Linked DNA regions of Homo sapiens. The protein of the gene in region 1 interacts with the protein of each later gene in a biochemical or structural test. Each region holds a gene or a part of one and is shown on either strand. Other genes may lie near its edges. The genes, in order: LYZ and LTF.

Region 1 (3,657 bases):
TGCAAAGTTGATATTATTAAATTGTTAAATATTAAAATTCCCAATAAAGAACATTAATCTTATTTCTAAAATCCAGTTAATTAAAAAAATTTATATTATATAATAATATTTGGTCATTAAATAAAAATTAGAAAATACAAATAAGAAAAATAACACCCATAATCTTACTACCCAGAGGTTTATAACCATGGGTAAATTCTGGTATATATTCTTCCAGAATGTATATCAATCATGTGTATGAATGTTAAATTATATCATACACATATAAACCCACATACAAACATGTAAATACTGTGTGCTTTTGCAAAAATTAAATTGTATTATACACACGGCTTTACAATTTGCTTCTTATCACACAAAATTATTTGCATGTCAGCAAATACAAATCGGTTTTTAATGATCTTTTGCTCCATTTTCCAGATGAGAAAAAAATACAAATCTGTATCATCATTTTAAAAGAATGACTAGAATTTTAATATATGAATATTCTATAATTTACTGATCCAATTGTTACTATTGAGCACTTAGGTTGTTTCCATTTTTCCCTCATAAATTGCTATGAATAGCTTTTTGTATACATCTTTGGGTGCATTTCTTATTTCTTTTGGATAAATTTTCAATAATAGAACTGCTGAGTAAAATATCACTAGGTGTTTTTTTACAGTGTCTAGTGCAAAGAAGACCTTTAATCATTTTGTTAATACTTCCAGAGCTTCCAATGACTTTGGTAAATGAAGAAAAAAATGCTTCATTTCATGCTGAATGGGAGAGAATGAAGAGAGTTTTCCCCAACAATTACACATATATGGACTCATAGAAAATAATATCTTACCATTCTTTCCACAGCCTAACAGAAAAAAGCTGGCTAAACCTAAATTTAAAATAAAATATCTATTAAAGTTTTTATTCCTTACCACCTGTCTTTCAGCTTTGCTGCAAGATAACATCGCTGATGCTGTAGCTTGTGCAAAGAGGGTTGTCCGTGATCCACAAGGCATTAGAGCATGGTATGTTTTAAGTGTTAAAAGGGAAAACTATCTTACTCTACTGTTGATATATACAATGAGAGCAGACTTTTAAAGACCAAAGTATGCTAATGACACCTCAAAATTGCAGCTTTTGGCTTATGCTAAATGATGTATTACCTACATCCTTGAAGAAACAATCTACTTTAACTGATCCAGAATCTTACTCTTTTACTCCTCAATTTATTTTAGGGGATTTCTAGAGTTTTAAGATGCTTCACACTCTATCAGTTCCTTGTCATATCTTGAAATTCTTTTTAGAATAAGTAAGTGTGGGCCGGGCACAGTGGCTCACGCCTGTAATCCCAGCACTTTGGGAGACCGAGGCAGATGGATCACCTGAGGTCAGGAGTTCGAGACCAGCCTGCCTAACATGGCAAAACCCCATCTCCACTAAAAATACAAAAAATTAGCTGGGTGTGGTGGCAGGTGCCTGTAATCCCAGCCACTCGGGAGGCTGAGGCAGGAGACTTGCTTGAACCCGGGAGGTGGAGGTTGCAGAGGATTGCGCCATTGTACTTCAGCCTGGGCGACAGAGTGAGACTCTGTCTCAAATAAATACATAAAAAATAAATGTGGAATTCACTTTGCAGTTGCTGCTGTACAACGCACATTACTCAATCTTTATGTTCGGCATTCTATGCTCTACTGAGAAATTTGGGTAGGAGTGAAGTATTTTGTATACATATCTTCATTTAATAAATAGCAATAGCTGGGTCTATCTTACTATTTTATCTATTGATAAAATATTTTGTTTCCCCAAGGAGTGCGAAGTATGTATATTACAATGAAGATATGTTTTAACCTTTCACCATTTGCTTCATCTTTTTCTACAGGGTGGCATGGAGAAATCGTTGTCAAAACAGAGATGTCCGTCAGTATGTTCAAGGTTGTGGAGTGTAACTCCAGAATTTTCCTTCTTCAGCTCATTTTGTCTCTCTCACATTAAGGGAGTAGGAATTAAGTGAAAGGTCACACTACCATTATTTCCCCTTCAAACAAATAATATTTTTACAGAAGCAGGAGCAAAATATGGCCTTTCTTCTAAGAGATATAATGTTCACTAATGTGGTTATTTTACATTAAGCCTACAACATTTTTCAGTTTGCAAATAGAACTAATACTGGTGAAAATTTACCTAAAACCTTGGTTATCAAATACATCTCCAGTACATTCCGTTCTTTTTTTTTTTGAGACAGTCTCGCTCTGTCGCCCAGGCTGGAGTGCAGTGGCGCAATCTCGGCTCACTGCAACCTCCACCTCCCGGGTTCACGCCATTCTCCTGCCTCAGCCTCCCGAGTAGCTGGGATTACGGGCGCCCGCCACCACGCCCGGCTAATTTTTTGTATTTTTAGTAGAGACAGGGTTTCACCGTGTTAGCCAGGATGGTCTCGATCTCCTGACCTTGTGATCCACCCACCTCGGCCTCCCAAAGTGCTGGGATTACAGGCGTGAGCCACTGCGCCCGGCCACATTCAGTTCTTATCAAAGAAATAACCCAGACTTAATCTTGAATGATACGATTATGCCCAATATTAAGTAAAAAATATAAGAAAAGGTTATCTTAAATAGATCTTAGGCAAAATACCAGCTGATGAAGGCATCTGATGCCTTCATCTGTTCAGTCATCTCCAAAAACAGTAAAAATAACCACTTTTTGTTGGGCAATATGAAATTTTTAAAGGAGTAGAATACCAAATGATAGAAACAGACTGCCTGAATTGAGAATTTTGATTTCTTAAAGTGTGTTTCTTTCTAAATTGCTGTTCCTTAATTTGATTAATTTAATTCATGTATTATGATTAAATCTGAGGCAGATGAGCTTACAAGTATTGAAATAATTACTAATTAATCACAAATGTGAAGTTATGCATGATGTAAAAAATACAAACATTCTAATTAAAGGCTTTGCAACACATGCCTTGTCTGTTTTTATTTAGACTCCTATAGTGTCTCTGAAGAAAAGAATACAGATATTTGAAAAAATATGATTTGGTGCTCTTAATATCTCTTATATCGTCACTTACCTCACTTAAATAGTCAGATATTGCTGGAGAAAAATTCACAAGCATGCTGACAGGTCTCACTTTAAATTCATAACCATAAATCTCAAATGAGCCCTCAAGTCTGCCTGACCATTTTAGTTACTTCTCTACAATCCTTCCATTTTTATGTCCCTAGTCTCCAAAATGACTGTTACTATTTTACTTTTCCTCTTCTCTCTTCAAAGCCTCAAGACACACATTCAGCCTCCTCCTCTGCCCCCTTATCCTCCACCCTCCTCTGCTCTCAGCAGATAACCTGGCCTCATATTACACTTCTAAAACAAAAGCAACTTCATACCAAGCTTTCCCTTCTACATCCCAAAGCAGCAGTCATACCTTCCCACAGGCCCATCCTTCCTTCCTTCCCTCCTATTATCAGGATGAAGAGCCTCTGCTCCTGCCAACAGCACTGACTCCACATGCAGTTTCCCTCCCATCCCTCTCACTACTCCAAGTCAGGCTGTTTCCTGCATCCCTAGTTTGTCCCTTTTAGCTGGATCACCTCCATCATTCTACAGTCTGCCCTAGTAACCTTCCATCTTACAACAAATACTCCACTGACCCTACATAATCCTCCAACTGCAACT
Region 2 (7,303 bases), on another chromosome or scaffold:
GAAGGAGCAGAAGCAGAAGGGAGAAGTGGCTGAGACTGCAGTGATTACTGAAGGAGGGAGGCCGAAAGTGGAGACAGTTCTTTCTCAGGAAACAGAATAGCAAGTCACCTGCTGAGACTTGGGGGTTGGAATGCTGAAGTGGGGCTAAGGAGACAGATGCAGATTGGAAGGTAGCAAATGGCTGAGGACCAGGAGAGAGAGTGATTGTTCAAACATTGGCTGGAAGATTATCTTCCATCATCTGCAACCACCTGTAATTTTGTTCCCACTAACTCCCAAGGAGTCTCCAGACCAAGGCTCACATGGGGATGAATGAAGGCCTCTACTTCCTTTTTCATAAAGGGAGGCTTCATTTGCATATGTTCACCCAGTTTGTAGCATCATCCACAGTTTCCAATAGGCATGCATGATCTCATGTGGGCAGACAGTGTGTTTCTGTGGTTGACTAGAGGAAGCCAGGGAGACATTTGCTACTGAGCATGGCTAGTATCTGTGTGTGTGAGAGTGAGTGTGTGTGTGTGTGTGAGAGAAAGAGAGAGAGTGTGTGTGTATGAATTTCGTTTCAAAATCCATATGACACCTACAGATGTTATCATGTTGTCTATTGAGATAAAGAATTTTGGAGTTCTTTTAATCACAAATATGGAAAATGTTATAAAACCTTCCCAAAGGCAAATCTGAACACTAAGATGTGTTGTGATGCCAAAGACTCTGCTTTGAAGGAGAAAAGGAAACACCTTCACCTACCATCAGTGTTCTGCAAGACAGTGACATCTTTCACAAATGCAACGTCTCCAGCATTCTCAGCCAGGCACCTAAAATGTTCCAGAAAATATACACATAATTACAGAAGAGAAACTAGTGGGGCTTTCATAAATATTTGTAATATGCATTCCAAAAACTGAAATATGGAAGTAAACATCTAAAAGACAACTATTTCTAGGAATTTACTGTTTACAGCGGCAGATTGAACACAGGTGTACCTGCCCTCCTTTTAAAACCCTATATAAAAGACATTACAAAACCAAGAAATCTAAAGATATGCGACCCAGGAAACAGGCAATCTAACATGAAGTAAGACAAAGGAAAGCACCAAAATAATGGTCAACAGGACCCCCAGGACCACAGATGTGCAGGCGGCCTACACAGCAACCAGTCCAAACTGCAGCAGGAAGATGGATGCCTTCTGGAGCAGCACTTCCAAGTAAATGATGAAACTGTGATAGCACCCAGAGAGAGAGAGAGAGAGAGAGAGAGAGAGAGAGAGTGTGTGTGTGTGTGTGTGTGTGTGTGTGTGTGTGTGTGTGTGTGTGTGTGTGTATGCATGTTGTTAGGAGATTTACATTACTGGCAGACAGTTTGGGGATGAGATAGTGATGTGTTTTTTTAAGTGCAGAAAATTAAGCAAATAAGAAAAGACATTTATGAACTCCAGAGTAAACAAAAAGTTTGTACAATAAGGGAAATATAATATGAGAATAACGCTTACACAGTCATAAGTACTGAATATGACATTAGCGTGTTGGGTGCTGAAGAGAGTTGAAGTCTGTGGTTGTGTGGTGGAAAAGGTGCTGGGGGCAGTGTGAGAGGCTAGATCTTCTTCTATACTACAGAGTCAGCAGAAAGTTAAAAATTAAGAACCAGCATTATAAGGATGATAGAAATAAAGGGGTATGACACTGGTTTCAGCTTTTAATGATTTTGCTATAAATTTCCCCAATCTAGATTCTAGATATAATTTAAACAAAAGACAAGGGATTTTCTTCCAGTATAATTAGGAATATTAAAATGTGGGTGTTTCCAGTGAACTAATACCTTGCTGCAGGTCTGAAAAAAAAAAAAAGAGGAGCACATGCTTCTTTCGGGCTCTTATGAGACATGTGTTCAGCATTTCTGAGTAGAATCACATTTCCATTTGCAAATCCTTAGTCCCTTAAAGATATTTTTATACATTCACAAAACATTTTTTTTTGTTTTGGGTCTTTTTTTATGAGCCACTTATATAGCAAAAGCTACTTTTCTGTCATTCCATTACTGGAACAAGGCTGTTGAATTTATATTAAAAAGTTCAGACACCCTCAGACACATGACGCCATCTGGTCGTGAAATGTACTCTTGGCAAATGGAGGAAAAGGAACAGGGGAAGATCCTCTCTGCACCCTTCACACTGGTAAATAGTGCCCCTGAGAAGCAACACCCGGATGAATGGTGCTGTAAAACGTGGGGTGTGGTTACAAGTCACTAAGTGGTTATAACTTATGAATTCTGAAAACTTGTTTTTTGGCTTATTTTTCACTTCGTTACTGGAGAATAACACTGCAATTCTGCCATCTCTTTGCCATTTCTAAGGCCAAAGTCAGAGAAAAAGGGAAACCTAAGCCATAGTCATGACCTAGGTGAGAAGAAAAGGGGCGGCGATGGGAAAGAGAATTCTTCCCCATAAATGGAATTGTAGGAAGCACTTAGGATACCACACTCTACCCATTTGATTTTCAGGACGAGGCTATTGAGGCCTACTGCTGTTGATCTTGGCTCAAAGCCACAGGGAGAAGCACTGCGGAGCTGAGGTCAGACAGCCCTGGTGCCAGCCTCCACTCTCTGGGGCGGTGGGTGTGGTGGGGACAGCCCTCACTGGGGCCACCCATGAGCTGACCCACAGGATGACCCCCACTCTGCTGTGACAGGTCACATCTGGCTCCTTAGAACTGCAATGCTGACATGCTGAGGGATGAGGTAAGTCCCCATCCTGATGGAGCTCAGTCACAGACTCACCGGAAAGCCCCAGTGTAGCCGTAGTATCTCTCGTTGCTGTTGGGCACGCACTTATTCTCACCCTGCTCGTCGCCAATACACAGAGCACAGAGATTAGATCTCGGGTCAGACCCAGGGGCACAGCTTTGACTGAAATATTCATCTGGAGAGAAGGAACACGGGGAGTCAGCTCTTCAAACCTGAGTCCACACAAGCAACCTTTACCTAACAGCCGATGCAGGGTGGTTTCAGTTCATTAGACTTCCCAGGACAGCAATCTAGATAGAACACACTCACCATCACAAAGCAACATGTTGTCACCAACATAGGACCCACCAGAAAAGCTTCATTCAGACTGTAGGCACAGATGGACACCCAACTAAGGCTGGGGATGAGAGCTGTGGCTGCCTGGAGGGTCCCGTCATCACAGCCTTGAGCTGGGGACTCAGCTCATGACCGTGATGGCTGTGTGCAGCAGAGCCTGTGAGTTGCCTAGTCCAGGATCTGATTTTGTTTTTATCAGTAATGGAAACCCTGCTTTGTATCTGGGTGCTTGGCCCTTTGGTATAAAGACTAGACTTATCAGACTCCCTGGGGCTCATATGGCCATATGGGTAGCTATAGGCCAGTGAAATATCAGCAGGAGTGTTGGGCGCCAGCTTCTCAGAAACATCCTTGAAAGACAATTGGTACATGCCTTTTGCCCTTTCTTCTCCTTCTCTTTCTTCATCCTGCACATAGAATGCAGAAGCAGGGACTGGACTTAGAGATGCAATGTGGGCCATGAGGTGACCTTGAGCATGAAAGCCACACAAATGGCAGAGTAGCCAAATGATTAAAGCCCAGGTTCCAGACCCCATATTGTCTTCATACCAGCCCTAGGCAAACCACCTCTGGACTACATGACACAGAAATTAACTTCTGTCTTGTTTAAGCCTCTACTATTTCAGGAGTTTTCTGTTCCTTGCAGCTGAACCTGATCTGAATTCGTTCATTGTGTGATTTAACCCAAGAAAGAATAAACAAAGGTGACAAGAAAGCTCTGCCCCACTGAGCAAACGTCACCCATTATCAGACTCCCACTGCTGCTGGAAGAGCCACACTATGTGTCAACCTCAGGAAAAGCTGGGAGTTCCCATTCCATCCTGGCAGTTTCCCTACAGCTCAGAGGCTGCCATGGAGCTGGTGAGGAGCAGAGCCACGTGAAAGCTGCCTGCCCCGGCCAGGATCAAAAACCCATGCAGTGGAGCCCCTGCCCTAGGAGACGCCCATACAAGAAGGGAGTCACATTGAGGATGTGCTACACACCATGCCACGGGGCCCACAGCAGGCAGGGTGTGGCTGATGCTGACTAGGATGAGTGTGGGGTGTGGTGGGGAGAGAAAACTGCAGAAGCAGGTGGAGCCAGGCTCTTGAGGTCTTATTCAGGCTCCGTTGCAGTGTAGAGTAAGCGTCAGTTTTGCTTAGTAACAGGAGTCACCTTTCATGAGGCAGGCAGACATCTTTCCCCAAGCTGGGAAGCCAGAGTTTAAGAGGAATTTAGGTCTGGAGCTCCAAGAGGTAAAAAGCATTTGCACATCTTGGAACTTGCATTTATTCTTAGGGTGCAGCGAAATAGGCAGATATTCCAATCTTTAATCTTGGGGTGGGGTGAATGGGGCATGGGAAGTGCTGTGCAGGGAAACCCCCAGTGCACCCACGCCTCCAGGGGGCAGCCACAGGGAGAATTTCCTTATGCTGGAAGAGGCCTGCAGGCCACTATCAGCCTGCAAATCCCCTCCCCTCCCTTCCCTAAGGTTCCACAGCACAATATGCCTACCCTCCAGGGTGGCCCACCCACCGCACCTTTGGAACTCCTTACCAAATTTGCAGGAGCCCGTCTGGTTGAAGAGCAGGCCCATGGGGATATTCCAGCCTGCAGTCCTGTCCACGGCGGTGTGGCAGGACTTCTTGCCTTTCACAGAGTTCCAGGTAAGGCTAGTGTCTGATCTCCTAACCACCGCCACAGCAAGATATCCTGGCATAACAGATGACAGAAAAACAAGTCTTAACCTCCAGGAGGCCTGGCACATGGATTCCAGTGGAGCTGTCTACAGCCCAGGCCAAAACAGGCCAAGAAGCAACACCAGGCAATGATTCCCTCAAAGAACTGGCCTTTTTAGGTAGACCGAGAAAGCATAAGCTGCTGCCTTATGTTAAGGTGAGATTGATGAAATAAAACAGTAAGAAAAGCTGATTATTTTAGTGATTACAGGGGACTGTCTTCAACCAGCCACACAATGTCCCTGAGTTACAAACCAGCAATGCATCTCTCAGTGTAAGCTTCTACAGCAACAAACACTATAAACAACAAGAGAGACCCCAACAGTGCATAAATCACCAACCACAGTGTGCATCAGGCAAGAGCACCAACATCCAGCCAGCTAACGGCTGTGTGGGTACAGGGGCACATGTCCCCAGGGACTGCCCTGAGCTGAGTCTGAACCCACCCTGCACTGGTTGAACTCAACATGGTTGCCGTTGTCCTCCTGAGAGAATGCATCTGACAGACACCCACCAAGGGCAAGTCTTTTCTGAAACTGAGCAAGCACCAGCTCTGGTGGGCAGGAGGAGTGGTGCACAGAGCACTGGGACACGAGTCCCAGGTCACGAGGACCCGGGGTCAAGACCAGGATCTACCACAGTATTACCTATGGCTGTGAGTGAGATCCTGGGCACTTGGGGACTCTCGGTGCCACTGTTTCCTCATCCCCATGAGGTGGGGAAGTAGCACCCCCCATTCCATGACCATGACAAAATGAGGGACTATATGGATGTTCTTTGCCAAGTGTGAAGGTCAATATAAACATTAATTAGAACTATTCCTCTGTGAATTATTTGCACCCTTAAAATTATTGCTCCTAGAAGCCCTATAGCTTCTAGGGCTGCAATTCTTTCTGTTTTTTTTACAGTTCCTGCCACTTCCTCTTCCAGCAACAAGAACTTATCCTTGACCCTGAAAGTGGCTAATGCCAACTCACCTTCCACAGGTCTATCCACACAGTTAGGATCAGGGTCACTGCTTTGTTGGGATTCTGAAAGAATAAAGACAAGCCAGACATCATTATCCATTCAGATGTAGTGAGAAGCCACAAACTCTTAAATCTCAATGATGCAGAATCAAATCCAAAGAGACCGTCCCAGCAGTTCCATGCAGGAGAAATGCGTCTATATGTTCAACAAAAGACATGGCACAGAGATTCACAGCTGCATTATTCACCACAGCCACCAACTGGAAACTACTCAAATGCCCATCCACACTCAAATGATGAATAATCACAGTAGACTCACACAGCGACGAGACTGAACAGTCTACAACTACACACTTAGGTGGATGAAAAGCATAACGATGAGCAAGAGAAACCAGACATAAAAAAACACATGCTGTGTAATTCCTTTAACATGAAGTTTAAAACATAGGCAAACTTAGATCTGCGACCTTAGAAGCCAGGAGAGAGGCTTCCCTTGCAGGAGTAAGGGGGCGGGGGACAGGAGGACATAAGGGGCTTCTGAAACTTGCAGTGTTTGTTCTGGGCCCGAGAGCATGGACTGTACAGTGTGTGAAGTGCCATGAGTTGTACATTTATGTGCACTTTTCTGTTTGTATGTTATAATTCACTGAGATCTTCTGGAAAATTAAGAAGATAAAACCAACCTGTCCCTTGTTAATTCTCAACACAATAGGCTTTGTGGGTAACACGGCCCCTTTCATTTCTTCTTTCCCTGATTCTCCCTTTTGAATGTATCTGTTCATCATAATGTTTCACCTGCATTCACCGAATGGGATTACTCATAGCCCCACTCCCATGACCCAGAGGGAATATACCAGAGGATGCTAACTCCACTTACTGTAGTTCTCTGCCAGGACAGGCACCAAACCACATTTGCCTGCAGTGTACACATATCCTCCATCCAAACTCATGGCATCAGCTTCTCCTTTCTGCAAAGACAGAGCAGATCTCCAGCACCACAGTGAGGCTGCATCCCGTCCTGCCTGTCTATATAGCTCTCTGAGAGAATGGTTTTCTGTCAGGTGACCAGTGAAACAGCAGAAAGAGATGGACTATTCAAACTGAGCAGCCAGAGGAAACACCGTGTGCACCACTAATTCTCTCCCAGCCCTGCCTACTTTCTGGGCTGTCAATTCAACTGGAAAGACCAGGCACAGGTTGCACTAATCCTCTGTCCTCTGAGCAAAACCTTTTCTGTGTCCCTGGCACTTTGGGGACACCTTCCTGGAGCAGTCTCACTGACTGAGGACACAGATGGGAACAGCTGGCCTCATCTAATCTGAACTCATTAGCACTCCACTCCAAGCGCTACACAGAAGTTGTCCAACACATAAGCTGAAGTCGTCATATTGGCCCACCACCAGAATGAACAAGTCCAGGCTACAACACAGGATCATGGACTCATCAGTAGTATGAAACTTCCTCTTTGACCCAGTAATATTTTTACAACTATATTAAAAATAGAGAAGTGGACAAAGATTTCTACTCAAGAATGCTCACCA

What was found.
Region 2: the proteins of LYZ (region 1) and LTF form a complex in vitro, tested with the Homo sapiens proteins (one study listed by BioGRID).

The regions. Positions count from the first base shown.
Region 1 is NC_000012.12:69,351,292-69,354,948, forward strand, and holds the end of LYZ (lysozyme C precursor), read left to right. Parts: intron 1-928; coding exon 929-1,007; intron 1,008-1,861; coding exon 1,862-1,928; 3' UTR 1,929-2,943; downstream 2,944-3,657. UniProt on the Homo sapiens protein: Lysozymes have primarily a bacteriolytic function; those in tissues and body fluids are associated with the monocyte-macrophage system and enhance the activity of immunoagents.
Region 2 is NC_000003.12:46,440,669-46,447,971, forward strand, and holds part of LTF (lactotransferrin isoform 1 preproprotein), read right to left. Parts: intron 6,731-7,303; coding exon 6,640-6,730; intron 5,826-6,639; coding exon 5,772-5,825; intron 4,769-5,771; coding exon 4,613-4,768; intron 2,915-4,612; coding exon 2,773-2,914; intron 816-2,772; coding exon 748-815; intron 1-747. UniProt on the Homo sapiens protein: Transferrins are iron binding transport proteins which can bind two Fe(3+) ions in association with the binding of an anion, usually bicarbonate. Lactoferricin binds to the bacterial surface and is crucial for the bactericidal functions.